Regions from separate parts of the Homo sapiens genome. Here region 1 is linked to region 2. The links come from fine-mapping of genetic effects on gene expression. A gene starts in region 2. The other region holds a variant in brackets. All regions are shown on one strand. Distances are between the middles of the regions.

Region 1 (2,903 bases), 510 kb before region 2:
GTATTCCGTCTGTTCTAGCTTATCAATCTTCTCCTTTTTTTTTTGAGATGGAGTCTCTTTCTGTTGTTAAGGCTGGAGTACAGTGGTGCAATCTCAGCTCACTGCAGCCTCTGCCTCCTGGGTTGAAGTGATTCTCCTGCCTCAGCCTCCCAAGTAGCTGGGATTACAGGCATGTGCTACCACGCCCAGCTAATTTTTTGTATTTTTAGTTCAGATGGGGTTTTATCCTGTTGGCCAGGCTGGTCTGGAATTCCTGACCTCAAGTGATCCGTCCGCCTCAGCCTCCGAAACTGCTGGGATGACAAGCATGAGCCACCGCACCTGCTCCCTGCCCTGTTTTTTTTTTTTTTTTTTTTTTTTTTAAGACAGAGTCTCACTCTGTCGCCCACGTTGGAGCAGGCGAGGACCTCAGAGCTATAGGAAGCTTTGTTGTCTTCATTATCTAGAAATTAAAAGCCGGGAGTTGGAGAATTCTCAGGAGCCCTCTCCTTCTGATGAAAGAACACAAGCATCCTCATGAGCCACCTGCTAATGCATGGTGTCCACCTGGGTGGCTGCTTTTCTGCACAAGGAGAAGTCCCCAAAGACCCCTTCCTTTTCTCTGTGCTGCGGATGATGGACTTTGTATATTAGCTCAGAGCCATTGTTGAGCCTGTCTGGGGACCTGGGTTATCCTCAGTGGTTCCTGTGGATTCCAGCCAAGTATTTCTGGGGGAGAAAATGTTCTTGGTATTAGGGTAGAAGAGATTCTTCTACTAGAAACCCCATCCATCCCTTCCTGTCCTCCTACCCGCCACCACTATGGCTATTACACAGCACTCACACCATTGTGTTGGGCTTCCTGTGTTTTGGTGTGTCCTGCTCTAATTTAAGTTATGTATTGCCGGAATTAGGCCATCCTTTACTGGGCTTAGAACACTCTGATTAAACTGAAATTTCTGCCAGGCACAGTGACTCACTCCTGTAATCCCAGCACTTTGGGAGGCCGAGGCAGGTGGATCACCTGAGGTGAGGAGTTTAAGACCAGCCTGGCCAACATGGTAAAACCCCATCTTTACTAAAAATACAAATATTAGCCACATGTGGCGGTATGCGCCTGTAATCCCAGCTACTCGGGAGGCTGAGGCAGGAGAATCACTTGAACCTGGGAGATGGAGGTTGCAGTGAGCCGAGATTGTGCCACTGCACTCCAGCCTGGGTGACAGAGCAAGACTCCATCTCAAAAAAACAAAACAAAAACAACAACAAAATGCTCATTTCTCTCAAAAAGGACATTCATTTGTTCTGAAGAGACTTGATTCAAGGTAGCAAATTGAGTCGTGTTTTTTTTTGACGGAGGCTAGCTGGGATTACAGGCACATACCACCAGGCCCAGCTAATTTTTGTATTTTTAGTACAGACGGGATTTCAGTATGTTGGCCAGGCTGCTTTCGAACTCCTGACCTCAAGTTATCCACTGGCCTTGGCCTCCTAAAGTGCTGAGATTACAGGTGTGAGCCACCATGCCCGGCCTGGTTATTTGGTTATTCTTATTTTTATGTCTATGTATGTATGTTATGTTATGTATGTATGTATGTATGTATGTATGTATGTATGTAAGAGTCTCGCTGTGTTGCCCA[G/A]GCTAGAGTGCATTGGCACCATCTCGGCTCACTGCAACCTCCGCCTCCCAGGTTCAAGCAATTCTCCTGCCTCAGCCTCACGAGTAGCTGGGATTACAGGTGCCCACCACCACACCCAGCCAATTTTTGTATTTTTAGTAGAGACAGGGTTTCGCCATGTTGGCCAACCATGTAGCTAGGACTACAGGTGTGCGCCACCATGCCTGGCTTTTTTTTTGTATTTTTAGTAGAGATGGGGTTTCGCCATGTTGGCCAGGCTGGTCTCAAACTCCTGACCTCAAGTGATCCGCCCACCTTGGCCTCCCAAAGTGCTAGGATTACAGGTGTAAGCCACTGTGCCATGCCTTTTTTTTTTTTTTTTTTGTGACAGGCAGGGTCTTGCTCTGTCACCTAGGCTGGAGTTTGGTGGCAGGATCTCAGCTGCAACCCTCTCCTCCTCCCGAGCCCAAGTGATCCTCCTACCTCAGCCTCCCAGGTAGCTGGGACTACAGGCAGCACCATGTGCAACTAATTTGTTTCACTGATTTTTATTTGTTTGCAGGGTTTCACTATGTTGGCCAGGCTGGTATTGGACTCCTGAGCTAAAGTGATCTGCGGGCTTCAGCCTCTCAAAACGTTGGGATTACTGGTCTGGATCACTGCGTCCAGGCAGTAAGTTTTTCTTCTTTTGAGACACGGTCTCTCTCCGTCACCCAGGCTGGAGTGCAGTGGCATGATCTCAACTCATTGCAACCTCACCCTCTCGGGCTTAAGCAATCCTCCCACCTCAGCCTCCCAAGTAGCTGGGACTGTAGGTGTGTATCACCATACATGTTAATTTTTGTATATTTTTTAGAGATGGGGTCTCACTATGTTGCCCAAGCTGGTCTCAAGTTCCTGAACTTGAGCAATCCTCCCACTTTGGCCTCCCAAAGTGTTGGGATCATAGGCGTGAACCACAGCAACTGGCCCATCACTTTTTTTTTTTTTTTTTGAGACGGGAGTCTTGCTCTTGTTGCCCAGGCTGAAGTGCAATGGCACGATCTCAGCTCACCACAATCTCCGCCTCCCGGGTTCAAGCCATGCTCCTGCCTCAGCCTCCCAAGTAGCTAGGATTACAGGTGCCTGCCACCATGCCAGGCTAATTTTGTATTTTTAGCAGATACAGGGTTTCTCCATGTTGCTCAGGTTAATCTCGAACTCCCGACCTCAGGTGATCCGCCTGCCTTGGCCTCCCAAAGTGCTGGGATTACAGGAGTGAGCCACCATGCCTGGCTCTGGTCCAAGACTTTTTAAAATTACATG
Region 2 (2,903 bases):
AAAGAAGAAAAGAAAATTAGCCAGGTGTGGTTGCATGCACCTGTAGTCCCAGCACTTTGGGAGGCCAAGGCAGGAGGATCAATCAAGGCTAGGAGTTTGAGACTGCAGAAAGAAACCCTGTCTCTAAAAAAAAGGTCCAGGTAATTTCAGGGTCCAGCTCCACCACAAGCGCAGCTCCAGGGGCTGTTGAGTTTTGCCTTTATCATTCCAAGTAGTCCCTGCTCCAGACCAAGTCCCACCATCTGGCAGTCAGGTCAGTCCAACCACAGTCATATCAGGGCCCTTCCAGGAATTCTCGACGCAAACTGGAGGCCGATGGCGCGGGTCTTTTCGTGGACGGCGGCAGCACGGTCCTCGGCTTGCGTCCGTAGTTGCTCAGGCTTCTGGTTCAGGGCTGGGCGGCGGCGCCCCTGCGGCGGGCGGCCCGCACCAGGCTCTGCTGCAGCACGGGGTAGAGGCGCTGGCAGCCCTCGAGGCCCAGGCGTACGGCCTCCGCCCAGCTCTCTGTCAGGCCGCCCTCGCCGCTGCCCAGCAGCCCGGCCACCTGATTCAGCACAGGCATGAGCGCCACGGTGAGGCCGGCGGCGGCGCGCTCTTCCTCGAGCCGCGTGGGGTCCAGGAGCCAGGTGGGCGCGGGCCCCGGCGCGAGGCTGAGGCCGCAGCCCACCACCAGGTCGTACATCTCCACGCCCGCGTCGGCCAGGGCGAGCGCGGCGGCGGTGAGCGCGGCGGCCAGGGCCGAGCCACCGTCCTCCAGCAGCAGCGCCGACACCTCGAGCTGCGCGCGCGGGTAGCGGCCCAGGCGCACAGCCGGCTCCAGCGCCTCCTGCAGCGCCAGCGCCAGCTCACGCTCCTCGCAGCCGCCCGGGGGAGCGCGGCGCCGGCGGCCCGCGAAGGGTGCGCGGCGGAAGTCGCAGAGCAGGCGACCGCGCAGCGCGGCCGGGGCCTCGCCGCCTGCTCCGGCCGGGCCGCCGCCGCGCTCGCCGCCCTCGGCCTGTCGCGGGCCCGACACGGCACACAGCACCTTGGTGCCTCCCGCCTCCAGGTAGGCCGAGCCCTTGGCCTGGCTCAGCAGCCCGGCGCGCGCGTACACGGGCCGTAGCCGCGTTGGGTCGCGGGTGCCGGGCGCCTCCTCCTCGTCGGCCGCGTACAGCTGCGGCGGCTGCGATTCTTCAGGGCCGCGGATGCGGCGGTGATCCCCAGGCATGGCGGTTCTTGGCGTGCGAACCCCTTCCGCCCAACGCCCTGCCGCATCCACTGGTTCTTCCGTTGTTTAAAGACGCGCGGCTGCGCATGGGCTGTCGAGAGAGCGGCGGGAGGCACTACAGCGCCCCTGGAGGCCCGGAGGGAGAACGGCCCGGTCCCAGTTGTGCAGGGTAGCCGGATCCATCCATCTTGCTGGAAGGGAGGGGGGAGAGCAGCTCCAAGAAAGGCTTCTCTGCTTCCAACTACCTCCACCCCTCATCTACTGAATTATGAACGCCTTGCTCCAAGTCACCCCACCTATTTGGCCTCCACCTCCACAGACGTTTGAGGCAGCCCTAGGGGCTGTTCCCAAAATTTTGGGTTCTGGGGCTGGACTAGGTGAACACCACAGCAGCCAGCAGGAGCCACAGCATTTATTCTACAGACGCCAAAGGCTGTCAAAAGAGCCAGCCCCTATTGGGAAGAGGGATAGAGATCATGCGGCATTAAGTATTGCACGTGGTCCTTTTATTCTCTGCAGCAAAAACGATTCCTACTTGCTGACGCGGAAAGCTCAGGTCTGGAGAGCCGTTATCTATAGATGCGAGCGTGACGATCAACAGCAATGCGGGGTTAGTGGTTCTAGACCGATGGCACTGACGTGGAGGGCTCAGGGCAGAAATTTAAGGGGCACTGAGACATAGGACTGCTCCCAAGTGTGTTCCAGTTACTGCTGGGTTAGGAGGGGCTCTTTAAAGGTCCCAAGATTCAAATGTTCTTGTAGCAGATGAAGAGCTCTTGGCTGGACGGATGGATCCAGTGGGAGCCTCCTCCTTCCCCACTCAGTTCTTTACATCCCCGAGGCGCAGCTGGGCGAAGGAAGTGGCCAGCTGCAGCGCCTCCTGCAGGCAGCCAACGTTCTTGCCTGTGGCCTGTGCAGACACATCCTTGCCACCACCTTTACCGTCCATCAAGCCTGACACCTGCTGCACCCACTCGCTGGCTTTTAAGCCCCGATTGGCTGCATTCTAGAAGACAGGAAGGGAAGGGGGAGTCAGCACAGAAGATGGGATTGAGGGAGGAATGCAGGGAAAGAAAGGATGGAGGAGCCATCACCCACTCCTTGCCCTGGGTGATACTGCTGGAGGCCGAGACAGACTTTACGGCTGGTACAGGGGGCGGCCATGGCCACTGCCAGGACAGGACAGAGTGGCAAAGCCAGGTATCAACCAGATGTCTTCACCAATAAGAAGGCCTGGGTAAGGGGTACTGGCAAAGGTAACCAACCGGTGGGCAGAAAGGCTGTTTCGAATGCAGGCTGTACACACACAGGCCTCAGCCAACAACCTTAAGACCTAACACTTCCCACTGGTGCGAGGTGGTGCTGACCTGGGGAACTTGACACAGGCACGTGATCTTGCCAGCCTCATTGTCCACCGTGAAGAGCATGGCAGAAGTCTGAGGGGAGTGCATCTTGAAGAGCTTCAAGGCTTCATTCAGGGCCTGTGGGGAGGACCTGGCTCAGGCCACGGTGCTGGAGCAGGGACCCTCACTAGTGTGAGCATTTGCAGCCCTCAGAAGGCCTGCCACCCACCCCTACCCCTTCCCAGAGCAGGGGCTGTGCCCAGGGCCTGTGGGGAGGACCCCAGCGCCGGGCCCTGCCCCTACCCTGGCCCAGGTATGCCTCCCACATGCAGGGAGCTGCTGCTCCTCCCAAT

What was found. PIP is the estimated chance that this variant, and not a neighbour inherited with it, causes the effect.
Region 1: its variant is fine-mapped to the expression of EXOSC6 in esophagus muscle (GTEx, PIP 0.96).

What each region holds. Positions count from the first base shown.
Region 1 is chr16:69,737,071-69,739,973 of GRCh38, forward strand. All of the region lies in intron 1 of NQO1-DT (NQO1 divergent transcript), which reads left to right. Among named protein-coding and RNA genes, the nearest start is that of NQO1-DT, 12 kb to the left of the region's middle. The variant G/A (reference allele first, on the strand shown) is at 1,620.
Region 2 is chr16:70,250,694-70,253,596 of GRCh38, forward strand. EXOSC6 (exosome component 6) reads right to left here and starts at 1,247. Exons shown (of 1, transcript NM_058219.3): 1 at 1-1,247. The coding sequence starts at 1,207. The coding sequence ends at 389. AARS1 (alanyl-tRNA synthetase 1) reads right to left here. Exons shown (of 21, transcript NM_001605.3): 20 at 2,575-2,688; 21 at 1,605-2,213. The coding sequence ends at 2,028. RefSeq lists silencers at 454-773, 904-993 and enhancers at 1,374-1,423, 1,464-1,653, 2,288-2,788.